Homo sapiens: one gene and its partners. The protein of the gene in region 4 purifies or fractionates together with the protein of the main gene of each other region. This does not show direct contact. Each region holds a gene or a part of one and is shown on either strand. Other genes may lie near its edges. The genes, in order: DCAF10, PPP2R1B, PABIR2, PPP2R2C, MTCL1, TCP1 and ZNF746.

The links.
Region 1: the proteins of PPP2R2C (region 4) and DCAF10 purify together in Homo sapiens (affinity purification with mass spectrometry; 4 studies listed by BioGRID and IntAct, with this or other methods). This does not show direct contact.
Region 2: the proteins of PPP2R2C (region 4) and PPP2R1B purify together in Homo sapiens (affinity purification with mass spectrometry; 6 studies listed by BioGRID and IntAct, with this or other methods). This does not show direct contact.
Region 3: the proteins of PPP2R2C (region 4) and PABIR2 purify together in Homo sapiens (affinity purification with mass spectrometry; 4 studies listed by BioGRID and IntAct, with this or other methods). This does not show direct contact.
Region 5: the proteins of PPP2R2C (region 4) and MTCL1 purify together in Homo sapiens (affinity purification with mass spectrometry; 4 studies listed by BioGRID and IntAct, with this or other methods). This does not show direct contact.
Region 6: the proteins of PPP2R2C (region 4) and TCP1 purify together in Homo sapiens (affinity purification with mass spectrometry; 6 studies listed by BioGRID and IntAct, with this or other methods). This does not show direct contact.
Region 7: the proteins of PPP2R2C (region 4) and ZNF746 purify together in Homo sapiens (affinity purification with mass spectrometry; 3 studies listed by BioGRID and IntAct, with this or other methods). This does not show direct contact.

What each region holds. Positions count from the first base shown.
Region 1 is NC_000009.12:37,859,688-37,863,749, reverse strand, and holds part of DCAF10 (DDB1- and CUL4-associated factor 10), read right to left. Parts: intron 3,703-4,062; coding exon 3,557-3,702; intron 3,123-3,556; coding exon of another isoform or gene 3,090-3,122; exon of another isoform or gene 2,950-3,089; intron 2,611-2,949; coding exon 2,242-2,610; 3' UTR 1-2,241. UniProt on the Homo sapiens protein: May function as a substrate receptor for CUL4-DDB1 E3 ubiquitin-protein ligase complex.
Region 2 is NC_000011.10:111,756,231-111,760,292, forward strand, and holds part of PPP2R1B (serine/threonine-protein phosphatase 2A 65 kDa regulatory subunit A beta isoform), read right to left. Parts: intron 3,722-4,062; coding exon 3,574-3,721; intron 1-3,573. UniProt on the Homo sapiens protein: The PR65 subunit of protein phosphatase 2A serves as a scaffolding molecule to coordinate the assembly of the catalytic subunit and a variable regulatory B subunit.
Region 3 is NC_000023.11:134,786,821-134,790,882, reverse strand, and holds part of PABIR2 (PABIR family member 2), read left to right. Parts: intron 1-1,246; coding exon 1,247-1,303; intron 1,304-1,616; coding exon 1,617-1,660; intron 1,661-1,743; coding exon 1,744-1,798; intron 1,799-2,051; coding exon 2,052-2,153; intron 2,154-3,349; coding exon 3,350-3,411; intron 3,412-4,062.
Region 4 is NC_000004.12:6,322,337-6,326,398, reverse strand, and holds part of PPP2R2C (protein phosphatase 2, regulatory subunit B, gamma), read left to right. Parts: intron 1-2,805; coding exon 2,806-3,097; 3' UTR 3,098-4,062. UniProt on the Homo sapiens protein: The B regulatory subunit might modulate substrate selectivity and catalytic activity, and might also direct the localization of the catalytic enzyme to a particular subcellular compartment.
Region 5 is NC_000018.10:8,711,764-8,715,825, reverse strand, and holds part of MTCL1 (microtubule cross-linking factor 1), read right to left. Parts: intron 1,685-4,062; exon of another isoform or gene 1,577-1,684; intron 1-1,576. UniProt on the Homo sapiens protein: Microtubule-associated factor involved in the late phase of epithelial polarization and microtubule dynamics regulation.
Region 6 is NC_000006.12:159,779,041-159,783,102, reverse strand, and holds part of TCP1 (T-complex protein 1 subunit alpha), read left to right. Parts: intron 1-1,992; coding exon 1,993-2,168; intron 2,169-2,536; coding exon 2,537-2,660; intron 2,661-2,721; exon of another isoform or gene 2,722-2,853; intron 2,854-3,015; coding exon 3,016-3,208; intron 3,209-3,312; coding exon 3,313-3,476; intron 3,477-3,841; coding exon 3,842-4,058; 3' UTR 4,059-4,062. UniProt on the Homo sapiens protein: Component of the chaperonin-containing T-complex (TRiC), a molecular chaperone complex that assists the folding of actin, tubulin and other proteins upon ATP hydrolysis.
Region 7 is NC_000007.14:149,494,718-149,499,388, reverse strand, and holds the start of ZNF746 (zinc finger protein 746), read left to right. Parts: upstream 1-1,579; 5' UTR 1,580-1,852; coding exon 1,853-1,876; intron 1,877-2,024; exon of another isoform or gene 2,025-2,582; intron 2,583-4,671.

The DNA of each region.
Region 1 (4,062 bases), on a different chromosome or scaffold from region 4:
TGTAAGATTTAAAATACTTTTCTTCTTATGGCTAGAATTCTCAGCATCTACTCCCATGCCTGCCTTTCTAAAATCTATTGGCCAGTTTAAGGGTATTTACAATAATACAACTTAAAGACAAAGTGTCCATAAGTCATTATTTCTAACAGACAGCATAACACAGTAGAAATTGCCCTGACCAAGGAATTAGAAGACTGGAATTCAAGTCCTAACTCTGCCACTAACTTTGCAGGATGACCTTAGGCAAGTCATGTCACTTCTCTCATTTGTCAAATAATGCAAATGATTCCATTCTAAGGTATTTTCCACCTCTAAAATTGCTTTCATTTACTATTATTATTTTTTAAATAATGAAAACACTTTCTGGGAATTGTCTTAAGCCCAAATGGGTAGAGAAGAATTTTTTTTTTTTTTTTTTTTTTTTGAGACAGAGTCTCGCTCTGTCGCCTAGGCTGGAGTGCAGTGGTGCAATCTCGGCTTACTGCACCCTCTGCCTCCCGGGTTCAAGTGATTCTCTTGCCTCAGCCTCCTGGGTAGCTGGGATTACAGGTGAGCACCACCACGCCCGGCTAATTTTTGTATTTTTAGTAGAGATGGCGTTTCACCATGTTGGTCAGGCTGGTCTCGAACTCCTGACCTTGTGATCCACCCACCTCGGCCTCCCAAAGTGCTGGGATTACAGGCATGAGCCACTGCGCCTGGCCGAGTAGAGAAGAATTTACTGCTGATTAAGGTTGTGTTTTTCAACCTGCAATCCCGAGACCCTCAGAATAAAGATTACTTGAGGTTGCTATGAAAAATACAGATTCCTGTCCTCCCCCTGGCTGAATCAGAATCTCATAAGGTGAGGCTCAGGTTTCTGCACTTTTCACAAGCTCTGTAATGGTTACAGTGCACCCTAATGTTTGAGAACCAGTGGCCTAAAGAGAATGCAACCTAAGAGGGCAAGGCTAGTGCATAGCTTAAATCGCTCCAGCCTTTGGTAATCCCTTCTAAACACAGTACCACCCATGTGGAGGAGACTGCAAGGAAGCTGTTATTCAAAGTAGAACAGTCAGCCTTGTGCTTGAGTCCTGCTTTATGCTTGCGTGTTTCATAACAAAACACAAAGGCAAGTCTTCATATCAGCACTTAGTCTTGATATCCAAGTAGCTGACTACTGTACTTATGATAACAGCTTGAAGAGGACTGCAACTCTCCCCTCACGAATGGTGACAGAGTTGGCTTGTCACACCTGGCTCAGGGAAGAAAAATGAGTAAACCCCTACCTCTTTACTCTTGATTCCTCTTCCACCCTAATACTGTTAACACATCATCCTGTGTGATTCAAATAATCTGGCAGATGAAATACAGAAAATCTAAGTCATATTGTTCTTATCACTCTATGGCCAGATATTATACTAATCTAATTTTAAAAATCCTTTTCTGTGCAATAGAAATAACCAAAGCTCATTCTGTCTCCTTTCCTTTCTAATGCTGTTGATAGGAACAAAATATCAAGTAAGGATACATGCTAGAGATGTTAAATTCATACAAGTAAAGTAAATTACAAAGAGAGGTGGTAATATTTTTTTCTAGAATTTCACAATAAAATCCCTCTCACCATGAAAATCTTTTTATAATTTTAACAGGAAACTTAAAAGACATTTTGTTGCAAGACTATCTTAACAATTATAAGAATAATGCCATTATCTGTGCTCAATATAGATAAACATAACAGTAACTTTAAAAGGCCAAGTATACTCATAAGTGAGGATGAAATTTATTTTTCAACAACCAATATGCCAATATCCAACTTCTAGGTTTTATTCAATTCTAATGTCATGGGTTTCTCCTACCCCAGTCAAAACTCCTGCCAAATGTCCACAAAATTGACACCAAAATCAACAAACACAAAGAAAGAGAGGGACAGGGAGAGGGAAAGAGAAATAGAGAGTGAGGAAGGAAGGAACGTGACAAGAGCTACCATGCAAAATGACCAGAAGAACTGGAGTTCAGTGGCACAGATCAGCAGGAGCAGAGGAATGCTGCAAAAGATGATGCTGCATAGAGTCTAACTTGGAGATGCCTGTATGATGCTGGATGACCAAGTACTAAGGTCACAAGTGTGTTCATGGACCCATAAGAACCAGGATCTTGACCCAAACTTATAAGATCTTCTAAAAAGAAAATACTTCATCTAAATTGAAGCAATTCCTAAGTCAAACACCAGAAGAGTTCCTTATTTGATGTAAGTTGTGCCTAAAACTTTGGCTGATACAAAGAAACCCGTCCACTAAGGCACCCTGAGGCAATCTGACAATGTGTTGGAGAGAACTTTGTTGTCAGTACCACATCATTATGAGAGTACAGAGAACGGATCACCCGCAGGGGACTGGCTTCTTTGGGCAAGCAGTCAACAAGTTCACTGCACTGTTTGTCAAATCCCAACAAGCGAATCCCATAGCCATGTGGGGAAGAAATCATTCGTCCATCGGGGCTGAAGCAAAGTTCTTTGATGTAACCCCTGCCTACATTGGCTTCTTCAATGTAATGAGTCAGTCGTAGAGAACAGCGAGGTGAGACAGGTCGCACTGGAGCTCCTTCTTGGAATTCATAGACACAAGTACACTAGGGGGAGAGAAGGGAGACAAACCAAGGTTACAGAGCCCAAATAGTGCTACAGATATTCCTTATTTTTAAAAAGCTCAACAGATTGCCAAAGCCACAGAATTTTTACAAGAAATCACTCAGAATAATGCTATCCCCCTCCCAACTAACAAAACTTGTAGGCCCCCTACTTTCTTATCTTCATAAGCTGAGGTTATTCTGTGTTATGATGCTTTAAAGCCTTTTGTTCCCTGAGGCTGCCTGTGACTTTTGCAGTAATACATTCTCTTTTCTAAGGGCAACAACAATGTTGATATTTTAAAAATTCCTGGAGTACATCCAAGCCCTAGAGTATCTTACCTCTTCCCCTACACAATTCAAAGGCTCTTCTCTTCTCTCCTTTCAGTTGTGGCCTCTAGGACCAGTGAGATCCTTGGAAGACTCTTGCTTTCCAGAGTGATGAGAATCATAAAGTCATTTAACACCTTTCCCCCTAGTCATCAGTATAGTCCCTTCCTTTCCCAGAGTTTCCCCTGGTTTTTAAAAAAAGAAAATTATGATACTCAATTGGCTTAGTAAAATCTCACATTTAGCCAGCTTAGCTGAAACATTTCAGACCTATGTTTATTATACAAGGGGTTTTTGTTTGTTTGTTTGTTTGTTTGTTTAGGGTGAGATGAAAGAGGCAAGATTTAAGAAGCTGGGCAAAAACTGAGCTGATGCTGGCCTTTAAAGTACCTCCCACCTTGCTCAACCCCAGCAGGAGAGGAATAAGAAGAGTTTGGAAGGGATAATGATACCATATGAAGCAAGAGAGGACAGAAACAGGAGAGTCGAGAAGCAGGATCTCTAGCAGTATGCCCTTGAAGGCAGAGACTGCAGTCAGCGATCGGCCTAAGCTCTGCACACACGGCAATGGCAATTTGTCCAATGAGCCCTGTTGAAGGTGGAGTGCTGCTGCCTGTACCTCCTCATCATCACTGTTGCTTGAGCACCGAAGAAGAGTGGCCCAGCCTTTTGGGTGCAGCTGTAAGGACGTGATGCAGTTTCCGTGGTCACTCTCACCAAGAACTTCAGGGGTTACGACTTCAAGACTATTTCGTGGTGAAACTCCTGAGATATAAGAAAATGAGGATGTGGGATTTGTATTATCAAAAAACTAAGGCAGTTCATCAAAGCTTTTTATTTCTGGCAGCCACCTCCCATGCCGTCATTCCTTAGTCTGCCCCTTATGCTACCATATGTTAAAGAGCGTGGTACTCCCCAATGTATGGTGTGTGAGTTTTGGCGGGGTGAAGGTGTGGGGAAAGGGTATAAATAGAACAAAAGATCCAAGTTCCCACAGCAGTAATTGTCACTGACCTAAGGCTAAGGCATAGAAGCTGACTAGGGGTTCTTTTATTTGGATCTTACATCTCAGAAAGCTCTTTATTTAAGTAAGAACCAAAGTTATGTGACATGAAAGGACTCTAG
Region 2 (4,062 bases), on a different chromosome or scaffold from region 4:
AAAAAAGAAAGAGCTGCTCCCTTTGCCTGGAATGGCATGTCAAAGTCATAAAGATAGAAATGACTTTGTACTATGAGTAAACAGCAAAGTAATTACCTTGGCTAGAATGCAGAGTTTCTATAAAGGAAATGAAAATTTTAAAATTAAGTAAAAAAGAAAAAAAAAACATTTTAATGATGCCTTCAAAGCCTTACTATAACAGAAAGTTGAGGGATAAAAATGAAAACAATATTTGTACAAGTTATTTATAACAGATTAGGACAAAGGTAAGAGTAAGAGTAAAGGAAATCACTTAGAAAGCTTAGTTTTCAAAAAACTCAGATCAGGGTCGCAGTAACAGGAGTGTAGGCAGCATAAGATAATGACTTGGAAAGAAATACACAGAACAATTAAAAGTTAGAAATCAAAAACAAAAATCAGTTGGATTTAAATGTCGAAGATCAAGGACAGAATAACTTTGAGGAAGCTGTGGCTAGAAAAACACAGAAATTAGAAAAGTATGGGATTAATGAACTCAACTTTCCAAATGTAAACAGCCAATGTCAACGTGACACCTACGTCCTTTGAACAAGTGGAAAATATACAAGACAAATCAGTGAGGGGCCAGGCACAGTGGCTCATGCCTGTAATCCCAGCACTTTGGGAGGCCGAGGCAGGCGGATCACCTGAGGTCAAGAGTTCAACACCAGCCTGGCCAACATGGTGAAACCCCATCTCTACTAACAATACAAAAATTAGCCAGGCATGGTGGCACGTGCCTGTAATCCCAGCTACTCAGGTGGCTGAGGCAGCAGAATTGCTTGAACCCAGGAGGCAGAGGCTGCAGTGAGCCGAGATCGCGCCACTGCACTCCAGCCTGGGTGACAGAGCAAAACTCCAACTCAAAAAAAAAAAAACACCGAAAAAAAAGAAACATCAATGAGAAATTAGAAATTGAGACTGTAGATTTGTGTATTATACATATATAAGGTAGAATCTTAATACATGTAAACATTAGCACCCAGGAGAAATAGGTAAAAAATTTTAAGTGTGTACAATAACAGTTATGTATATACGTATACACATACTTGAGAGACATAACAGTGACTCCAACTTCCAAAATATTACAAATCTTAGAAACTGTGTATCAACAATAACTGACTATATGCCAAAGACACACACATTCCTCTGTATGCAGGTGCACAGGCTAAAAAAGACAGGACTAAGTTCTTGGTAGTGACTACACAGATATTTTTGAATTTCGAAAATGATGCTAAATCATGGGACTGCTAATCAACTACTGAAATATAAGCTAATACATATTTGTTAAAAAATTACTTCTCTGGTCTGGTGCAGTGGCTCACACCTGTAATCCCAGCACTTTGGGAGGCCAAGGCGGACAGATCACAAGGTCAGGAGTTCGAGACCAGCCTACCCAACACAGTGAAACCCCATCTGTACTGAAAATACAAAAAATTAGCCAGTCATGGTGGCAGGCGCCTGTAATTCCAGCTACTCAGGAAGCTGAGGCAGGAGAATCACTTGAACCCGGGAGGCAGGGGTTGCAGTGAGCTGGGATCATGCCATTGTACTCCAGCCTGGGCGACAGGAGTGAAACTCCATCTCAAAAAAAAAAAAAAAAAAATTACTTCTCTTCCAGAACTTCGTTTTCTCTCCTACACCTGTTCCTCTTCCCAGAATTTTCTCTATCTTAACGATGACACCATCATCCACCCAGTTGCTCAAGCAAAAAATCTAGGAGATCTTGATTCCTCTCCCACTGATCCAATCCAATAATACTAACCTATTGATCCCACTTCCAAACTGACATCCAAATCCTTTCCATCTTCACTACCACCCTATTAACAACATCATCTCATGCTGAGACTTGAAATGTGGCTGGTACACGTTATTTACACTCAAATAATAAGATTTTGGAAAATTTTGGTCGAATACAAATATTGTTAATTTCACCTATTTCTTTTTTCTTATAAAAACATGGCCAGTAGAAAACTTAAAATCAACAGGTAGCTTACATTATATTTCTGTTGTAAAGCACTGTTTTAAACTATAACATTTAGGTAATAAAAGTGCAAAGAAGGCCGGGCACGGTGGCTCACGCCTGTAATCCCAGCACTTTGGGAGGCCAAGGTGGGCGGATCACAAGGTCAAGAGATGGAGACCATCCTGGTCAACATGGTGAAACCCCGTCTCTACTAAAAATACAAAAGTTAGCTTGGCGTGGTGGCATGCGCCTGTAGTCCTAGCTTCTTGGGAGGCTGAGGCAGGAGAATTGCTTGAACCCGGGAGGCAGAGGTTGCAGAAAGCCGAGATTGCACCACTGCACTCCAGCCTGGTGACAGAGTGAGACTCCTTTTAAAAAAAGAAAAGAAAAGAAAAGAAAAAGTGCAAAGAAAACAAAGGCTGCGCTTACCATAAAAGTCAGGATAATGTTACTCTTAAGGAAATGGAGTGGCAAGTGGAGGAGGAAAGAGAGATTGTGTTTGAAAGGGAATCCATGGAGGGATTCTGGGATAGTGGCTGTCAAAGTGATGTCTCCTATCATAGGTGATCGTTAACAAGTTGGTATTACCTTCTAATAGTTCATTAAGTTATACATTCATTTTGTACATTTATTATTAGAATAAAAATTCTAATAATTTTTAAAATTATTTTCAAAGTAGGATTTAGATCTTTAGATTTAGGATCTGAAAATGAGACTCATTAATATGTGTCCTGGGGCTTGTGGTCCTGTACACATGAAGCGATCTTAGGGCAGGCAACATGCAAATTAAAAGCCCAAAAGGACTATTCTAGAGTCCAGGAACTCTGGGAGCTGATCCTATTAAGCACCATTACAGAGAAGCGGGACAGCCTAGCTGTGAAGGGCACAAATTCTGGAGCCAAACCACCTAGATTCAAATTCTGACTCCACTACTGCTAACTATGCAAACTTCAGCAAGTTACTTAAACTTTCTGTGCCTTTGTTTTCTAATGTGTAAAATGGGCTATCTCATGGGGCTGTTGTAAGGACTGAATTACTTAATACACATAACTACTTAAAGGCAGAGAAAAATTAAGTACTTCATTTGGATGTTTGCTAGTTTTATTGTTATTTCTACACCAAAGAGATCTAGATCTTCAGAATTGAATACGATTATGTGAAGTAATCCCATACACTACTATAGAAGAAGCAGAGAGTCAAATAGCTTTCCTAACACATTCTAAGCTTATTTATCTGAAAAGTCAAAAATTCCAGGAAACATTACTCCCTCATATTACAATACAGCCAGCAATTCCCAAAGGTATGTTACCCTCCATGCAGCTTTGGTCTTCCTTTCTAATTATGGCTCCCATTTCCTCTCTGACTCCCCACTCTTTTAACAGCTGCTAATGTAAGAGAGAAATCATGGTCTGGTTAAGAAAGAAACATAAGAACATTGAGATAAGCATGTTACACTTTAACCAGGCCAGAATCAGCACTAATTCTGTAAAAAGAATCCTAACAAGAAAACTAAAACTCCCCAAAGAAATTCTGAAAATTTAGAGGAAAGGAGCATATCTGTGTCCCTTAAATACTAAGAGTTAGTTTACCTGTTCATCTGAAGCTAGACTAGTGAACAGTGGAACAATTTCACTTTTCACACTGTCTAATTCCAAAACTTTTGCAAATTCACCCAATTTGGAAGCAGCAGCACGTCGTACCATTGGTGTGTCATCTGAGCACAAGGAACGGAATTGCCTGCAACATAAAACAATGAAGGTATTTCCCATCAAATAACACTGAATAAACCTGCCCCCCATACACACAGACAGACTTTTAGAGGTTTTATCTTACAATAATCAGTGACTAAGCTTCTACTTATAGAAGTAACAAAAATAAAACATATTCAACTGGATAATAAAAAATGACATCATAGGCCAGGCATGGTGCCTCACACCTGTAATCAAAGCACTTTGGGAGGCCCAGGTAGGAGGACTGCTTGAGGCCAGGAATTGAAAGCAGACTGGGCAACATAGCAAGACCCTATCTATATGCCAAAAATATTTTTGTTGTTGTTTGTCGGGGGCTCAAGTGAACTC
Region 3 (4,062 bases), on a different chromosome or scaffold from region 4:
AGTTCACCAGTGGCTGGGCGCAGTGGCTCACGCCTGTAATCCCAGCACTTTGGAGGGCCAAGGCAGGAGGATCACGAGGTCAGGAGATCGAGATCATCCTAGCCAACATGATGAAACCCCGTCTCTACTAAAATACATTTATCTTATACTCCAGTCTCCCTTAATGGTTGTAAAAATTCGCTGGGCATGGTGGTGTGTGCCTGTAGTCCCAGCTACTCAGGAGGCTGAGGCAGGGGAATCACTTGAACCTGGGAGGCGGAAGTTGCAGTGAGCAGAGATCATGCCATTGCATTCCAGCCTGGGCAACAAGAGCGAAACTCTGTCTCAAAAAAAAATAAAAAGAAACTTAGAGCATTTTATCACTATTTTATACTGCTCACTACATTAGTATTCAAATAAGTTTTAATAGTGTAGGGCCTCTTAAACAGGATAATTGTTATTTGGTTTTATAGTATTACAAGTTCACTTGCATTTCGTTATAGAATAAATAGTAGTCGTTTATATTATGACCACTAGAACTCTCTAAGACCTGTTGATATGAATTGTGTCTTACAGTTTGTGACCAGCTTGTAATTATTGTGAAGGAACATAATTTGGCCTCCAAATCATTTCTGCTTTGTGTTATTAAAAAATGATGATCTAAGGGAAAGCATCAGTTATTTTAAAGATACACCTTGTCTTTCCAAATTGTTTTTTGTTAACTAGTAAGATTTGTAGTGATAGCATATGATGAGATTTTAGAATGGATTTGGATCGTGAAAGCAAAACCTCCTTATTGCAGTTTTAAAGTGTTTTTGAAAATCATCAATCATAGACAAAATATTATATACTAGACTTATTAGCCTGTCTTCCCCCATTGCTGCATTGATAATAAAAATTAATAACATTGGTGTTTTTTTTTCTTTCCCTTCTCATATTGTTCTTTATTTTAGATAAGTGGGATAATGGATATTTCTAAGGCCCATAGTCTTTATTTCTCTAAATTTACGTAGCTTCACATTCATTTGGGAAAAGTGCTGAAGTCAGTGTCTGTCTAGCAACAGATGGCGCTTTGAGGTTGGACACCTGGTGTACTTTTTGAAGACTAAATGTACTGCCTTTAGTGCATTAACGTTCAGTGATCTAAAGAGCTAAATTTTGAAGAAGAATATGAAAACTTACCTAGGAAGAGGTTGTACGCCAGTACTGACAGCAGACTGCTGCTTTGTGATTCAGAAAATAGTAAATGTTTACTTTTTCTTTCCAGTTGCTGTCATCCTCACCTAATCGTATTCCTAGTAGCAGACTGCATCAGATCAAAAGGGTAAATTTTACTTACTAGCTCAGATTGGAAATTTTTTGGATTTTACATTTTTATTTTAAAGACGTAGATATTAAAATGAATTAGGATGCAACTCTGGTTAGTTGGAGACAGATTATAATTCTTCTGGAGCGTGTAGATAAAATATACAAGCGGCATGAATGTTCCACTCTACTGTGATTATGTCAATGAGGTAGAAAAAGTCTTTTTATTTTATTTGAAGCAGAGAACTATGTGGATAAAAATTGCAGTGTGTGGAAGAGTTAATATTTTGTCAGTGATCCTGCCTTTTTAGCATATATGTTTGTCTTTGCAGGAAGAAGGCCTGGATATGGTGAACAGAGAAACTGCACATGAAAGGTTAGTGCTTTGCAAGAGCAGGGCCTAGCCTAATAAGTGTCTTGTTTGTAAACACTGACGGCCCTTCCCTTTGTTTATTTTAGGGAAATGCAAACGGCAATGCAGATAAGCCAATCATGGGATGAGAGCTTGAGCCTGGTAAAGTTTGCTCATGTCTGTTTGGTTTTCATTTTCTAGAAACTTTTATGTTGTTCACTAGGTTCATTAATTTTTTCGCACACTTCTTTCCCCTTCTACTTCCAAATTGATACTTGTTTTTTGATCTCTGCTTTTCCAGCAGAATATTAGAGTCTATACCTTTCTCCTTGGAAAATCTGGGTGTGTTATAGTAGTAAGTAAGAGCTGTGATGTGCTGAATTTATTATGAGGAGATGACACTTTATGTTTACAGAGTGACAGTGATTTTGACAAGCCGGAGAAATTATATTCTCCTAAGAGAATTGACTTCACTCCAGTTTCTCCAGCACCTTCACCCACCAGGGGATTCGGAAAGGTAGGATAACTGACAAGATATTAAGTGTATTTCACAAACTGAGCTGTTTACTCTAAAACACACACAAATCACCCCACTTTTAAAGTATCCAATGCCTTGAAGGAAAATCAATGAAAATCTACAGCAGTAATTTGGAAAATATACATATATATATGTATATTCTTGGTCTTCTTAAAATATATATATATATAACATATATATTACATATATATAACATATTACATATATAACGTATATATTACATATATAACGTATATATAACACATATATAACATATATAACACATATATAACGTGTATATATTACACATATATAACGTGTATATATTACACATATATAACGTGTATATATTACACATATATAACGTGTATATATTACACATATATAACGTGTATATATTACACATATATAACGTGTATATATTACACATATATAACGTGTATATATTACACATATATAACGTGTATATATTACACATATATAACGTGTATATATTACACATATATAACGTGTATATATTACACATATATAACGTGTATATATTACACATATATAACGTGTATATATTACACATATATAACGTATATATTACACATATATAACGTGTATATATTACACATATATAACGTGTATATATTACACATATAACGTGTATATTACATATATATAACGTGTATATTACATATATATTACATATATATATATGTAATTTAGTTATGAGACACACAGACAGCCAAGCAATTCTAAAGATATTGTTTCTGTCATTTTGAAAAGAACCTTTTGAAAATGATTGTGGGCCTGGTATGGTGGCTTATACCTGTAATCATTCCAACTCTTTGGGAGGCCAAGGTGGGAGGATCACTTGAGCTCAGGAGGTCGAGAGCAGCCTGGGCAACATGGCGAGACCCCATCTCTACATTAAAAAAAAAAAAATAGATACAAAAAAATTAGTCGGGCATGGTGGCGCACACCTGTAGTCCTAGCTCATCAAGAAGGTGGGGCAGGAAGATGGCTTGAGCCCAAGAGTTCGAGGCTGCAGTAAGCTATGATCGCATCACTGCACTCCAGCTTGAGCAAAAGAGAGACCCTGTCTCTAAAAAAAAAAAAAAAAAAAAAAAAGAAAGAAAACTGGAGTGCTAGAACTATTTTAATATTGAATATGTTTTTTCTAGTAATGTTTTTCACCCTTCTTACAGATGTTCGTGAGCAGCAGTGGATTGCCACCAAGTCCAGTTCCCAGTCCAAGACGATTTTCAAGGTAAGCAAACTTGAATTTTAAATGTGGTTGAAGTACCATTCATTACATTTATCTCTCAGATTAGCTTTTTGTGGCTGGGCGCAGTGGCTCACACCTGTAATCCTAGCACTTTGGAAGGCCGAGGCTGGTGGATTACCTGAGGTCAAGAGTTCAAGACCAGCTTGGCCAACATGGTGAAACCTCGTCTCTACTAAAAATAGAAAAATTAGCTGGGCCTGGTGGCAGGCGCCTGTAATCCCAGTTACTCGGGAGGCTGAGGCAGGAGAATCGCTTGAACCAAGCAGGCGGAGGTTGCAGTGAGCTGAGATCGCACCATTATACTCCAGCCTGGGCAACAGAGCAAAAACTCTGTCTCAAAAAAAAAAAAAAAAAGAAGATTAACTCTTTTTCCCAATATTTCACTGTGAAATTTTCAGACATCAAAAGTGAAAGAATTTCACAGTGAACAACCATATACCCACTGCCTATAATCTACCATTAACATTTTAACCAGAGTTTTTTCTTTTCTTTTTTTTTGTATTTGAGGTGGAATCTCACTCTGTCGCCAGGCTAGAGTGCAGTAGTGTGATCTCAGCTCACTGAAACCTCTGCCTCCTGGGTTCAAGCATTTCTCTTCCCTCAGCCTCCCAAGTAGCTGGGATTACAGGCATG
Region 4 (4,062 bases):
GAGTCAAACACACCTACACTTGCTCTGAGGAGTCCTGGGCAAGGCTCCCCCAGGGGCCCATGCTGTATCCCTAGGGCTGTTTTTTTCTCTCCGGCCGTTTTCTTCTCTCCATGCTTCCCCATCTCCGCTCCTCCCTGCTTCTTCTTACACACTGGCCTCATCCTCTCCCTCTTCAGAGATGACCCCCAAATCATTCCCCTTTCCATTATCCTCAGCCAGCCAACCCCTCCCAGGGACTGTGTAAAACTCTCATGGAAGGATCTGATTGGCTCTGTGTGGGTCACTTGCCCACTTTTTGCACCAATCAGCATGGACAGGGATATCACATGCCCAAGTTGGCCAGGCCAAGGGGCGAGGAGAGCACTGTGATTGACCGCTCACAGGGATAGGGAGTGCAGTGGCGCCATCTCGGCTCGCTGCAACCTCCGCCTCCTGGAGTCAAACACTTCTCCTGCCGCAGCCTCCCAAGTAGCTGGGATTACAGGCGCCACGGGTGGCGAGGGCAGGAGCCTTTCTTTCCCCAAAGGAAAGAGGAGCGGAGCACTGGGGCTGAAAGCAGCCGGCGTTGTGGTCCCACATGCAGATGAGGCTAGGAGAGGTGAAGCAGCTCCCCTGCCCTTTTCCCTGTTAAGGGAACCTTCTGGAATTTAAGAAACCTGCCTGAATGTGAGGAATGGCTCTCATGGTGGTGCGGCCTGGTGCTCTAGGATGAGAGGGGCCCCTCCCTCTCCCCCAGAGCACGTGTCAGCTGAATTCCACACCCGAACAGGGGGAGGATCAGGAACTGTGTGGGTTGCAAATGACTTTAATTATGTCGCTCTCCTTCCACTAAATGGATCAGAAGAACCAGCATTGTGTGAAATCACCCAGGTTCATTCTGTGAACTGTTCCCTGAAGAACAAAGGGGGCTGCCTCCCCACTGTGCTGGCGCGGGGAGGGTGTGGCCTCCCCCAGTCAGCCTGTGGCGCCTGGGCAGGGCCCTTCTGTGGGACTCGTTCACCCGGCCCCCCTCGCATGCTGCTTCCCTTGTCCCAGGCTCTGAGTCACATATAAAGCGGGTGCGGCTTTGGTCACATGGACGATTAGGATCGAGGAGTACCTGGTAAATAACAAGAAGCAAAGTGCCTCAAGCCCAGCACTGTGCGGGGTGTTCAGCCTATGTCCCCTGATTCACGCTCACCAGGGGCTGCGTTCCCTTGTTGATCCCAGTTCTTATAGAAAACTAAGAGAGTGCGCATGTCAGGGTAGGGCAGAGCTGGGATCCGGACCCAGGCGGACTGGCCAGAGCCCAAGCCCCTGACTGCAGTGCCGGAGCTCACGTGTGAGCTTTTGTCCTCTGTGCATAACCCCTGGAGACCCAGGGATCCACCTGGTTCTGTCACAGAGCAGTGTCACCCTCAGGAAGCCCAGCTCAGCTTCCAAAAGGAAACAGGATTTCCTCCCTGAAGAGCCTTCAGCAGGACAACTTCTTTATGGTCGCTTTTCGTAACATCCTCTTCCTCCCCAGTTACCTTGCACCTCACAGCTGCTCCAGGGCCCTGCAGAGGCCAAACCCCAAAACCCTCCCTCTGGGCGCAGGCCCACAGAACTGTGCTTTCTCTCCTGCCTCTTACTATGTGGATGAACTTACCCTTCCTCCCACCGGCAGGAACCCCTTCTCCTTAGGAGCAGGGAGAGCAGAGAAATGGTGTGGAATTCTCTTTAGCGGGACGGTGAGGGCAGCGAGCCCCTGCACGTCAGCACTGCTCGCCCCGACCCTCATGGCGATGCATGTTTGTTTATTCGCCCGAGTCCTCGGGACAGGCGGGCCCCTGGAGGGAAGCAGGGCCTGGTGGTTTTCTGTCCCAGCTGCTTCCATGTCTACCTCCTGCTGTGGTTGCACAGTCTGTTTGGAAGGCCAGAGCTTTCTCTCCTGGACTAACAGAAATTACAGGAGGGTCTTTTCTTTTCTTTTCTTTTCTTTTTTCGAGACGGAGTTTTGCTCTTATTGCCCAGGCTGGAGTGCAGTGGCGCGATCTTGGCTCACTACAACCTTGCCTCCTGGATTCAAGCAACTCTCCTGCCTCAGCCTCCTGAGTAGCTGGGATTACAGGTGCCCACCACCATGTCCAGCTAATTTTTGTATTTTTAGTAGAGACAGGGTTTCATCATGTTGGCCAGGCTGGTCTCAAACTCCTAACCTCAGGTGATCTGCCCGCCTTGGCTTCCCAAAGTGCTGGGATTACAGGTGTGAGCCACCACGCCTGGCCAGGAGGGTATTTTCATGATGATTGGGGCAGAGGATAAAAAGGATCTTAGCTCCTGGCCCCAAAGTCTGCATGTTGGTGGCAGCTGACATGTGAGGGGGTATAAGAGACCCCAAGATACAGGGGAATAGAGGCAGGTGTGGTTTCCCTTTCCAGGGAGTGATGGCTCTGTAGGCTCTGGGATTGCTTTTTCATTTGTTTGTTGTTTTGGGACAGAGTTTTACTCTGTCACCCAGGCTAGACTGCAGTGGTAAATCACAGCTCACTGCAGTCTCTGCCTCCCCAGGCTCAGGTGATCCTCCTGCCTCCCCAGGCTCAGGTGATCCTCCTGCCTCAACCTCCTGAATAGCTGGGACTACGGTCATTTTTAATTTTTTTTTGTAGAGGTGGAGTCTCGCTATGTTGTCCAGGCTGGTCTTGAACTCCTAGGCTGAAGCAATCCTCCCACCGGGGCCTCCCAAAGTCCTGGGATTATGGGCGTGAGCCCCCACACCTGGGCTTATTTCTCGAGAAGGGGCTTGTGCTCCTCCTCACCTGATGCCTCTCCTTCTCCCACCAGCGTCATCATGACCGGGGCCTACAACAACTTCTTCCGCATGTTCGATCGGAACACCAAGCGGGACGTGACCCTGGAGGCCTCGAGGGAAAGCAGCAAGCCCCGGGCTGTGCTCAAGCCACGGCGCGTGTGCGTGGGGGGCAAGCGCCGGCGTGATGACATCAGTGTGGACAGCTTGGACTTCACCAAGAAGATCCTGCACACGGCCTGGCACCCGGCTGAGAACATCATTGCCATCGCCGCCACCAACAACCTGTACATCTTCCAGGACAAGGTAAACTCTGACATGCACTAGGTATGTGCAGTTCCCGGCCCCTGCCACCCAGCCTCATGCAAGTCATCCCCGACATGACCTTCACGACCGCAATGCAAGGAGGGGAAGAAAGTCACAGCACTGATGAGGACAGCTGCAGAGGTGGCAGTGTGTGGACACAGGAAGTTTGGGCCCCCTCCCTGCCCCAGCTTTCCTAGGCCAGAATTGTGTTTGGCAGTAATTGTCTGTTTAAAAAAATAAAAAGGAAAGGAAGCGTTCACCGCCACAAATCATAAAATGGACATGACTGTGGAGTCTTACAGTTCAGGGTTCTTTCATTCACGTCCCTTCCTGTCTCGGTCTGCGGTCTTTACCACATCAATAGGACTTTTTATGCGTCCGGGTTAATTTTTCACTCCAGTGCGTCCTGTTGCAGGGACCGGAGCTGATGGGAGCTGCTTCTCCCCCATGCCTCACTGGTCCCAGATCAGGGCTCCAGGGACAGATGATGAGTCTCAAACGAGCCAGCCAGGGGTTCTTTTGGTTATAAATGGGGCAATTCGCCCTGTCTCAGAGCTGATGACCTCACCGTTGTTTTTTGGATGGTGAATTCATGCTGAGAATTTGCAGATGCAAGCTCCTCTCCTAGGTCTTCTGAATGTCTTGAAACATCCCAGGTCCCAGGTCTGGTGCGGTTTCCCGAGAGGAGCGGAGTGGGGTTTGTCTTCTGTGTGCCTGTGTCCTCATCTGATTCACCTGCCATTTGCTGAGCCTCTGCTGTGTACCAGGCGTGGTGCTCAGCCCTAGAGGCAGTTGACTTACCCTCTGCAGCCCTCCCTGCCGCCTCACCCTTCAGCATTCACTGGGCACCTTCCCGGAGCGGACACTGACTCCCATGCACGATTTTTTGGAATCTTCCTCCTGACTGTGAGGTGGGTGTTCATTCATTTCCTCCATAAACACCAACTTCTCGAAGCGTGCCAGGCTCTGGGCTGGATGCTGGGGAT
Region 5 (4,062 bases), on a different chromosome or scaffold from region 4:
GAAGACGCCCTATGGGAGCTGTGCCCCTGCACTACCCACTCCTAGAGGAGGTCAACTGGAGACTGAAAGCTTTAAAATGAGCCTTGTGGTTGTCACTCTTTCGATAGAGTGGGAAGTTAGTTCTGAATCTTCAAAAATCAACGTCAAGTTTGATTCACACCCCATCCATGAAACTAATGGATCAGACTTTGAGAAAGAACCTAACCGCAATGCTTGTTTCTGAGTAAAGAGGTTAATTGTTTCACTGAGTCATTAATACAAATCAGTTCAATACAAGCAATAATCACTAAATGTTCAACACTAAGTCAATATCTGTATATGTATATGTACATGTATATCCACACATACAAATATACAGTGACTCTGGCCATTCTGTTCATGGAAAGAATGGTTTGTGATTGCTTTTCTTTCCAGAAAGCCTGCCAAAGTCATTAATGCCTGGGATTATCGGCAACTAAGACAAAAGTTTTTAAAATGCAATATAGCCCTAAGATGCAAGATACAGCTTCCAGGTATAAAATGTCTCTAGCTTTCAGACTTTGCAACTGGAGAGCCCACATCCACCCTAATGTTAAATGCTGCATTTTCATACAGATGTTACAGGCTATGAAAACTGTTCAAGGGCTAGATGCACCCACACCTCCACATCATTGAGCAGACCAGATGTAAATAGCAATATTTTTTGGCACAAATAATCACCAACATTAGTTGTACTGCAAATAAAATTAGGGGCCGGGTGCGGTGGCTCACGCCTGTAATCCCAGCACTTTGGGAGGCCGAGGCGGGCGGATCACAAGGTCAGGAGATCAAGACCATCCTGGCTAACACAGTGAAACCCTGTCTCTACTAAAAATAAAAAAAATTAGCCAGGCGTGGTGGCGGGCACCTGTAGTCCCAGCTACTCGGGAGGCTGAGGCAGAAGAATGGCGTGAACCCGGGAGGTGGAGCTTGCAGTGAGTGGAAATCGCGCCACTGCACTCCAGCCTGGGCGATGGAGTGAGACTCCACCTCAAAAAAAAAAGAGAAAAGAAAATTAGGGAGAGATCATATGATATGGTTTGGCTGTGTCCCCACTCAAATCTCATCTTGAACTGTAGCTCCCATAATCCTCACGTGTCACAGGAGGGACCCAGTGGGAGGTAACTGAATCACGGGGGCGGGTTTCTCCTCTGCTGCTCGTGACAGTGAGTAAGTCTCAAGAGAGATCTAATGGTTTTATAAACGGCAGTTTCCCTGCACACGTTCTTACGTGCCTCCATGTAATATGTGTCTTTGCTCCTCCTTTGTCTTCCACCATGATTGTGAGGCCTCCCCAGCCATGTGGAACTGTGAGTCCATTAAACCCTTTTTTCTTTATAAATTACCCAGTCTAGTGTTTCACAGAAGTATAAAAATGGACCAATGCACCATAACGGCATGTATTTAAATCACTGCTCTTATAATTCATATTTTACCTAAATTTACAGAACAGGCGTCGTTTATTAAGCACCTCACCCTCATTACTAACCCTACAATAACCCTGTCAGGAACACATTATGCAGTTGATAGACAAAAAAACAAAACTGAGGCTAGTTACCTGTGTCCAAAGCTTCACATCTAGTAAATTGAAGCCACACTGCAAACCCAGGCCTGTCTGCTTTCAATCACACACTCTTTCGAGTAAATACCATAAATTATTTGCTTCAACCTGGACAAATGAAACAATAACAGACCTTCAATTGTACTTTTAAAAGTCCACCATCAGTGTAAAACAAAAAAAGCAGCCTAACATTTACAGCTCGACAAGTGACGACACAAAGCATATCCATTAGGGCAACTGGTTCTTAGGAAGACACTGCAACGTGCGGTAAAGATATCCGTGCCCCTTCCCCGCTTTTTTTAAAGAGACAGAGTCTCACTCTGTGACCCAACCTGGAGCGCAGTGGTGCAGCCATGGCTCACTGCCACCTTGAGCTCCTGGGCTCAAGTGATCTTCCTGCCTCAGCCTCCTGAGTAGCTGGGATTACAAGCACATGCCACCATGCCTGGCTAATACTCCCATCTTTAAAACGAGGAAACTGAGATTCTAAAAGTATAAATGGCTTTCCACCATTATTGGTCTGCTGCAGCAATAGGACCAGGGCCAGTGTTTCAACTCTTCCCAGAGAGCCTAGAAAAAAGTAATTTTCAGGTTCAGTGAAAAGAAGTTAAAGACAAGCAAATTATAAACCATGTAAGCTGGCAGCAGCCATCTGAAAAGCAAAAACTATGATTACTGGAATTAGGGTCATGATGGATAGTGATTTTCAAACTAACATTACATTAATTTTCTGACGGCATGCTCCAATTTAGAAAACTGTATTGCAGAACCTTAATGACATCTGCCAACTAAAAATTTAAGTAAACCAAATCGAGCAGAGCATATGATGTTTCTGACAGGTGTAATTTAGAGATAGTACATAAAATTGGAAAATCGCTGTTGTCTTTTTATACACGGAAATAAGAAAAAGCTGTCCTTAATAGTTTTTTACTGAATTAACATCAAGTCTGGAGGATACTTAAGTATTAAATCATTATCTCATTGAAAAGCTAGTTTTAATTAAATACCTTTTTAAAGTTTTGTATATAAAACGAAATCTTGAAGTACTGTGAAGTCCAGTCGACTATTCCCCTTTGCCTGTGGCTGACAAATCAAGCCTTATCATGTATCTCAAATTAGAGGAATAATGAGGTACCAGGTGTGCACTAGAGTAAACCAAGATTAAAATTATATGTTTTAATGAAAACCTCTAAAAGGATAGTTTTATCCATGAATATATAATAAAAGTCAAATCCATGGCTTCTTAGTATAAGTGATGAAAACTCTTAATCATGTTAATAACTATATGAAAATCTTAATCTCTTTTAAATACCCAAAATCAGTAACTATCTCTATTTTAGCACCTCCTCTTTAAATAGACCCAGTTTGGATGGTAGAAGGAGTCCTCTGGCTACTGCTGCAATAATTCTATCTTCTGGGCAGACAGAAACTACTGTCTTTTGTAACATACGAATAATCCACCTCATTTCCCTCCAGACAAGGGAAATGTTCTCCAAGAGTCCCAGCTGTAACTAAGGAGGTGCAGGGCGACTCCCACTGTCTACCAGGTGATGGTCCAGCCAGCAGCTGGTGGCCGCAGCCCTTGTCTACATTAACTGCCACTGAAAATGATCATAGCCACTCTTTCAGTGGCTGAATACAGAGTGGGTATGGACAGCGAATGTCAGGAAAGAATGGGGAATACTGTCCATGTTAACCCTTCTGAAAGAGAAAGGAGGAGGAGGCGGGGAGCAAGGAGGCGCTGAGACACCTCAGCTACAGAGCACTGCTTGCGCTCCTCTCCAAGTGCCCCTCCACCCCCAGGCCACACTGAGCACCCGGCATCTGGGCAGCCCAGCTGCCAAATGTCAAAAACCAGGTCAGGGCCTGAAACTCAAAAGGCTAACTCCAATGAGAAGCAGGATGGTAAGCTTGGATCAGCAGTGAGACACTGCAACCTATAAAACCAAAACTCAACCTCTCCCTTAGGAAATCATTCCTCTCCAAGAAGCCAATTTTCTCTGCCCTTGTATCTAGCACCAACTTGTTTTCTTTTAACAGAAAAATATTTCCTATGAAATAACTGAGAAAGCAAAGCAAAGCAAAAAGAAACAGCTCTTCCCACCCCAATCCTCACCCACCCTGCAGGAGGTCAGCATGGCAAGAGGACACTATTTGGGGGTGGGGGAGGTGTGGGGTTATGGCTGCTAAAAGCATTTTCAAAATAGGCTCATAAATGCCAACTGATTAAATCCTCCTGAAAAGCCTGTGGAAACAGAGAACATAATTAATATGTTGACAACGAGCACTCCGGCTTGTCTGACTGTCTCCGAGCACTCGAGCAAAACACAGTCTTGGCAGCCTGGCAGGGAAGGAACACACCAGCGCTTTACCAAAGTCCTCAGCATTAAGAAAGTGCCTGGGTTCAACCTACAACATGGGAGAAAATTTTTGCAACCTACTCATCTGACAAAGGGCTAATATCCAGAATCTACAATGAACTC
Region 6 (4,062 bases), on a different chromosome or scaffold from region 4:
CTTCTTCATACATCCTTGTGCTATAGGTACTCCCTATCGTACATCTTTACAGGCAGATGTCATGAGTGGTTTACTACACAAAACTTCTCTGGTGCTTTTCTTCTCATCCCTTTTCAGCCCTGTTCTCCATTTGAGGGACTGCATGTTAAGGTCTCTAGCGTGAAATTCGGAAGACATTTTCAGCCTTCCTCTTACTTGACCTTTAGCAACCCTTTGATTATGTCCTTCTTGAAATGCTTTCGGGGATGGAAGGCTTTGTGATGCTGCTTTGTCTGGACCATGTCATAATACTCTCCAGGATAGCCCCTTTGTTCCCATGACTTCATGTATTATCTCTCTATGCCAGAGACTCTTTCAGCTGTTTCTCTAAGCTCCAAACACACATACCTCTATCTAGTAGAATGCTTTTCAAGCATCTCAAAGTGAACATGTCTAAAACTGAACTTGTGATAATACCGCAAATCTGCTTTTGACCATTTTAGTGATGGGGAGTCCTTCACACAGGCAGAAAACTAGGAAATGTCCTTAACTCCTCCTTTTTACCAACACTTTTTCTCCTAATCTGTCACCAAGACCGCTTGATTTCTACCTCCAAATTAAATTTACCTACTTTTCATTTTCTTGCCTAGACTGTTGTAGAAACACACCCAAGCTAGTCTCTTAGAGAAGCTTTTCTTTCTTCTTCAATCTAAATTATATTCTGTTGTAACTTCCTGTATTTTTTCTTCCTGGGGCTTATTACAGTTTTTACCATGAGTTTATATAACAGTGTGTAGCACACAGTACTTGTTTAGTAGACAAGCTGCTTTTGAGGTTGATCTGTAATTCATTTTACTTTAAAAATTCTTCGAATGATCTATTCACATGGCTTCACTCATATTGACTCTTCAAATCTGGATCTCCCATAGTTTATGGTTTCCATGATGTAAGTGACTGCCTCCTGGGAGCTTCACCTGAGTAACAGCAGAGACTTCAAACTTAATCTTGTCCTCAACTAAACTCTCATTTCCCATCCTGCCCCCAAAACTCTTGTTATTTATTTTACTCCAGGAGTCACCCAAGCCATAAAATTTGACTTTTCTGTTTAGGTTGTCTTTCAGCTTATATCTCATGTTATTATCTTCTTGTCTTCAGCCATTCAGTGCAGTTTCCACATTGATAATCAGGGAATCCTTTTGAAAACACAGATGATATACTAGTCTTGCTTAGAGATATTAAGCTTAGTATCTAGATTGTTTGGTGTAACCTGCAAGGTTTTTCACTTTTCTGGTTCTGCCTTCTTTTGTGCTTTCAACTCTGGACTCCTGTTTTTGTTTGTTTGTTTGTTTTTGAGACGGAGTTTTGCTCTTGTTGCCCAGGCTGGAGTGCAGTGGCACGGTCTCGGCTCACTGCGACCTCCGCCTTCCGGGTTTAAGTGATACTCCTGCCTCAGTCTCCTGAGTATCTGGGATTACAGGCGCCCACCACCAGGCCCAACTAATTTTTTGTATTTTTAGTAGAGGCGGTTTCACCGTGTTGGCCAGGTTGGTCTCGAACTCCTGACCTCAGGTGATCTGCCCGCCTCAGCCTCCCAAAGTGCTGGGATTACAGGCGTGAGCCACTGCACTTGGCCTGGACTCATCTTCATTGTCCACCTCCTAGGCTAAATTTATGTCTTTTATGTGCTTGTAATCTCTGCATACCACTTTAGTGACACTTGCCCTGGAGTGTGATTGGTAATCCCTCTCCCCACTAGATCCTTGAAGGCAGGACCTGTGTTCCCTGTTTAACCATAGTTCTCAATTAGTAATTCAAATTTGGGTTGGGGAGAGCTAAGTGGTAATTTTTAATTCCTTCAAATTTTCCATGAATTGGACTAATTTAAATTCTGGTCAGAGATAACAAAGGATAATACAATTTGATCTATGATTATCTTGTGATAAATACTTAATGGAAGTTAAATTATTTTTAAAAATCACAGAAGGTAACTCAGGTTACAAAAATACTTTGCAGAGAATCAGATATCACCAAGGAGAGAATTCAGAAGATCCTGGCAACTGGTGCCAATGTTATTCTAACCACTGGTGGAATTGATGATATGTGTCTGAAGTATTTTGTGGAGGCTGGTGCTATGGCAGTTAGAAGAGTTTTAAAAAGGGACCTTAAACGCATTGCCAAAGCTTCTGGAGGTATGTCTTGTGCTGGCTGTCACATAAAATACTTTTATTATCCCTGATCCTATCAAAGGTCTTTTTACATTGGAATATTGACAGAAAACAGCTCAAAAACATTTATATTCTCTTAATGCTTTGTGCTACCAACACATTTATAGAGCCATTTTTCATGTAACTGGAGAAATTTTGTTGGAAATTTGTGAACTGAATTTGTTCATTTCTAAAATGACAGTTCCATCTTAGGATAAAAGGAGTTACCGTGTGCTGCCTAACTAAATTCTAAACTTGTAATATAGCACTTTTACCACAAATGCTACTGAGTCCAAGGATATTAAAATCATGAAAGAGCAATATTCACAGATCCTTTGTAACTCTCTTATTAGCAACTATTCTGTCAACCCTGGCCAATTTGGAAGGTGAAGAAACTTTTGAAGCTGCAATGTTGGGACAGGCAGAAGAAGTGGTACAGGAGAGAATTTGTGATGATGAGCTGATCTTAATCAAAAAGTAAGAGCCACTTTCTAAAATTGTAAAGTTATACCGATTTTGTTAAGTAAAAGTAGGTTTTCTTCCCATTTATTTGCTGCTTGTAGTCTCACAGTGATACGAGCAGTTATACGCATGGGATAAAATAACATTGGGCCACTGTAAATTGAGATGAAGTAACCATTTTCATCTCTTCTGCAGGGACTAGACATTGTTTCTGTATAGTATATCTAAATATCCTGTGTAGGCAGGACTTAAGGGAACTTTATGTAGACTTATTTTATTAAAATGCCATTTTTTTTGAGAAATTGATGGTCTTGGCAAAAAAAAATTTTTAAAAATGCTATTACAAGAATTGTACTTTTGTTTTGAACAGTACTAAGGCTCGTACGTCTGCATCGATTATCTTACGTGGGGCAAATGATTTCATGTGTGATGAGATGGAGCGCTCTTTACATGATGCACTTTGTGTAGTGAAGAGAGTTTTGGAGTCAAAATCTGTGGTTCCCGGTGGGGGTGCTGTAGAAGCAGCCCTTTCCATATACCTTGAAAACTATGCAACCAGCATGGTAAGAACAGTCATTTCTTGTCTTAGAGGCCTGAGAGCAGTAGCTGTGGACTTCAATTTTTTTTTTCCCTTTTGTGAAGTCACCTAATTTTCTTCTTTTCCTAGGGGTCTCGGGAACAGCTTGCGATTGCAGAGTTTGCAAGATCACTTCTTGTTATTCCCAATACACTAGCAGTTAATGCTGCCCAGGACTCCACAGATCTGGTTGCAAAATTAAGAGCTTTTCATAATGAGGCCCAGGTTAACCCAGAACGTAAAAATCTAAAATGGTAAGCATGGTTTCCCGCTCTTTGTTAACCTCTGCAGAACAGGTTGCATTAAAAAGGATAGTAGTCAATTACATGTCAGCAAACATAAGTAACAGACTTGTCAAATACTTAACATGAAAAACTTCACAGCAAGCATTTGTTGTTCAGTCACTGTAATTCAAGGGATAATGACTAATTATTAGCACTGGTGTGTCTTCGTTAACTGTGATTGCTAATCTCTCCCTGCTTCTTTTGGTAGAAAGACTACCTACAAGATCTCTAGTCTGATTTAAAAATCAACCTTAATACTTGAATGAAATGCTGGAGTTAATAGGCCACCTAATGAAATTGTAAGCGGCCGTTAAATAATTCTTTCTTAATTGCAGGATTGGTCTTGATTTGAGCAATGGTAAACCTCGAGACAACAAACAAGCAGGGGTGTTTGAACCAACCATAGTTAAAGTTAAGAGTTTGAAATTTGCAACAGAAGCTGCAATCACCATTCTTCGAATTGATGATCTTATTAAATTACATCCAGAAAGTAAAGATGATAAACATGGAAGTTATGAAGATGCTGTTCACTCTGGAGCCCTTAATGATTGATCTG
Region 7 (4,671 bases), on a different chromosome or scaffold from region 4:
AGGGAACTTTTTAAATTGCACACTAAAAATGTCTCTTTATTTCTAATGCACTGTATTTCTGTCACCCAGTGGTGTGATCTCCACTCACTGCAACCTCTGCCTCCCGGGTTCAAGCGATTCTCGTACCTCAGCCTCCCCAGTAGTTGGGATTACAGGTGCGTGCCACCACGCCTCGCTAATTTTTTCTATTTTTAGTAGAGACGGGGTTTTGTCATGTTGCTCAGGCTGGTATCAAACTCCTGAGCTCAGGCAATCCACCCATCTTGGCCTCCCAAAGTGTTAGAATTACGGGCGTGAGCCACTGCGCCCGGCCCTAAAATGCTTTATATCTTCCTACATCAATTTTTTTTTGGGCTGTCATCCAGCTCACACCTCTACTACCACCCTCTGGTCTGAAATGCTCTCTGCCTATCAATATTTTGCCAATTCTTCAAGATCCAGCTCAAATTTTATCTATTCTGTAAGGTCTGCCTTCTTTGAAAAAGATTACAGATCTCTCACATATTTTCTTATCAGTGTGTGCTAGGCAGTTGGCTAGTTAGTCTTGGGGAATACACAGATGAGCAAGTCGTGTTCCTGAAAGGCAATGAGCCTCTGAAACTACGTGGGGGCCCGTCCAAGGCGCCCTCCTTCCCCTGCTCTGGTTGGCCTCTTTGAGAACATTTAAATTTTTATTTTTCTCTCCTTGTTTAAAAATACTATCCTTGTCATGGAAAAATAAAAACATGAATTGGAAAAAATTAGAAAAGGCATAAAAACGGCCCGTGGTCTATTAAAGGAATAGACCTTTAATAGAACTACTGAGGCCATGTTGATATATATGCTTCCAAACTTTTCAAAACTGTAATTATACATGTACGCAGTATATGACGCTACATATGTCCTATATTGTTTTAAAATGTTATTTTTAAAACAAAGACAGGATCGTCCTGGACAGGCTTTTTCTCTTAAAACATCATGAACATCTGTTCCTACCAAGACCTTCACCGAAATCATTTTAAATGATGGTATTGCGTCCCATTGCTCATGCCATTAAAAAAATTTACTGTAATAAACCCATTACAGAAAATGCTAAGTGGTTGCCTACCGGGGTTTACCGAACTATATTCCTGTTGTTGGAAGTATTTATTCCATTTCAAACACAGGTGGGCATGAGTTACATCTGTCCTCCCCAAAATAGCCTAAACCTCCAGACCCAGGACCTCGGGCAGCAGAAGTGCCCGTGGGGCGGGGGAAGGGGAGCCGGGCATCCCAGGGCGAGGGGGCCGCCCTGGCCGCGGTCACCCGGGGGACGCCCTGCCCGGAAGCCCGTGCTCGCCCGCGGGCGCGGCCAGGCGGGTCCCATGAGGGGGACCCTTTCAATAACCGAGTCCTCGGGCTGGGCCGCGGGGCCAGCGCAGTGACTCCCCCCGCGCTCGGCAGTCCGGCCGGGGTCGCGGGGTCGCGGGGTCGCGGGGTCGGCCCGGGGTCGCTAGGTCCTCCCGTCGGGCCCCGCGGGCGGGGCTGGGCGGGGCGGGGCGGGGCCGCGGGCAGGCGGGCGCAGCGCCTGCCGTTCGCCTCTCAGGCTGCAGGTGGGGCTGTGCGGCCGCGCTGCCTCCAGGAAGCCTCACGGGCCTTCGTCTGCCGGGCCGCGGCGCCGGCTCCCAGGATGCAGTGTGGACCGGCCGGGCGCTGACGGAGGCGGCGCGACTGCGGGCGGCGCGGCGCAGGGGCAGCCAGCGAGGAGCGGCGGCAGAGGAAAGGCCAGGCAGGCGCCGCCTGCGGAGAGCACCGGGCGGCCGGGCCTGCGTGGTGCCGCGCGCGGCGGCGGCGACGACGACTTCCTCCGGGCCGGGCGGGACAGCGCAGGGCCATGGCCGAGGCGGTCGCGGCTCCGGTAAGGGCGACCCGCGCGCGCAGGGACTCGCGGCCTGGGGGCCCCAGGCGGCCCGGCCCCGGCACACGGCGCCGCAGGCCCTGGGGAGGGGTTCCGGGGTCCGGGCCGGACCACCGGGCCTGGGGCTCCCGCGAATGGGGCGCGGGGTCCGCCGGGGCCTACTGCGCCCGTCGGCCGGGCCCCCACTCCGAGCCGAACCCGAGCGCTGGCGGAACGGTTGTCCCCGCCCCGGGCCGCCCCACGCCAAGTTCTTTGGGCCCTCCGGGGCTTCCTGCCCCCGCCCCAGCCGCTGTCCCCTCCTTCTGGGTGCCCCCCCACCCGCGGCTCCTTTCTCTGCCTGGCGCTCGGCCTGTAGGTCCCTCTCCATCTCCCCCGCAGCGGCCTGGTGGCACCTGGGAGGTGTCCGGCTTCGAATCCGCATACACCGACTCCCACTACGTGCCCAGCTTCCCGGGGTCGGCGCGGAAGGGAATATAGAGCCACGCACTTCCACAAGCCCTGTTGAGGCGTTAGTCTGTCCTCACAGCAAGCCTGTGGGATGGGTACTGGTGTTAATCTCTGTCATACAAAAGAAAAACCCGGGGCCTAGAGAACTTAACTTGCCCAGGCTTACCCAGCTGGAAAGTGTGAAAAGACACACAGTGGCTGTGTGTTCAAGGACCAGGCAGGCAGGTACGCGGGCAATAATCGTGCAAAACAGAAAGGGGTGAGTGCTGGCGCCCAGGTGGAAGCTTGCGGTGGGCTCCGGGGGAAGGAGTGTCAGGGGGCCTCTTGGTACCGCTGTCCACCCCTCCTGGCCTGATGCTCTGCGCCTCTGTGATTTGAGCCGGGCTTTTAGGGAAGGCTAGGATTTCAGGCCCAGCTAGACCGGTGGTGCTTTCAGGGAGGGAGGAGTGCCTGGGCAAAGGCGCAGAGAGACGGGACAGTGCAGGGCGTGTGCAGGCACAGAAAGGAGTCCATGAGCCTGGAGAAGATGGTTTTGGTTTGGAGGCAGTGGGAAAGGAGTCTGCAGAGAGAGACTAAGAAGGGGTTTGCATGCCTGGACTTCATCCTGCGGGTGGGCAGTGGATGAGGGATCCGGCTCCTCTTACCATCAGCTCCTCTCAAGCAAAGAGTTTCAGCTCCCCTGGCAGGAGTCCAAGGACAGCCCCACATATTCCAGCCACTTGTCAGTAAGAAGCTGGGCTGGAGTGAGCAGCGCACAGTCGCCACCTCCCACCACATAGTGTGAAGACCTTACACAGGGTTTCCTGGCCCCATCAGAACTGTAAGAAAACCATGCACCTTGTTGTCCATGAGTAAAAGACTAATATTTTCTTAATAAAGTAGTTTAGCAGAGGTCCCTTTCATGCCACACAAAGCCCATAATAATGCACGTGGAGGATGGGTAGGATTTCAGTGGATAAGGAGCTGGTGACCAGTTGAAAGGAAGCTTCTGGAGTAAACTCTTGGCGTCTGGGATCACGTGACAGGGATTGATCTGAGAAAGGAGAGGTGAGGGAAGGAACAGTGGCCTTAGGTGGAGGGTGGACTCAAGCCCAGAACCACGCTGGCCCACCCAGGTGCTGTAGGACCACCTACTCCTTGAGAGCAAGACTCCCACCCGCATTGGGGTTTTCGCCTAGAAACAGTTCAGCTTGTCCAGAATCTCCCAGCCTTGAAGACCCCTTAGAGTCCTACCTTCTTTGGGTCCTGCTTCCTTCCAAATAGATAGTATCTTAAGCACTGTCCTAGACAAGTTTGTTTCTCCCTCTGCTCAAACTCTCCTTTTGTCTCTATTTTTTGAGCTGTCCATCCGCATTCTAGTTCTCAGTGACTTTCTCTAAGTGAATCCACACTGGTTTCTAGTAGCTACTTCTTCATTTTGGAAATAATCACCAACCTTTTGTTGAGGAATTATTTTGCAGAATGTTGTAAGGAGGCGTTGATCCTCAGGTCCCGATACCAGGAGCTCCTCTGTGCCCTGTAGGTCCCACATTCAGATGTGGGTGGCTCAAACAGTCCAGCTCCCTACCCACCGCAAAATGTGCCCATTCTTCCTTGTCCCAGCTGCCGGTCACTGATACGCCATGTGAACATTTCCAATGACAGGGAAGGCCCCCGTCTCTAATTAAGATGGTTGCTGTCCATATACAAGTCTAACTGTGGCATATATGTACTTTCCTCACCAGACTGCAGGGTATGTCACTGCTCCTGGTACAGCTACAAAAATGTCGGAGGCCGTCATTTTTACCTTGAGGGGGTGGGAATTGGGAAAGAGAAAGAATCTTGTAGGGCTCAGGCAGTGTCAAAAAGCCTAACTCTGGACTGATGGAGATTTGCAGTCATGGGGATTTTAGCTTGTGGGGGAGGGGCAGATGGGAAGGTGACAAAATGAGACTGTCCTGGGGGAAGAGGAACTGGCCATTAGATTTTTATGTTTGTTAAAAGGGGACATGAGATGCTTTAAAAAACAAAAAAAGAAAAAAGAAATTGAGCAATACTCTTGTTTGTGCCGTTTCAGTGAACCAGCTGTTTTTTTTGCTGGGTCATCATCAGTAGACAGTTCCTGTGTAATCATGAGGGGAGGTGCAGGCTGCGCTCTAGTAAATCTGCAGTTTACCATTTCTCCACTAAAATGCCCAGCAATGCTAAGTCACTGTTTACGTAACAAAATTGCACTGGGTACCTGCCATGTGTCAAGGACAGTGGTATGAAAAGATGCAATACCATGTTCAGGGAGCCCACAGTGTAGGTGTGGGTAGGAAATTATTGTGTAGGGTGATAAGCACCGTGATAAGGGTCTGCATTGTGCT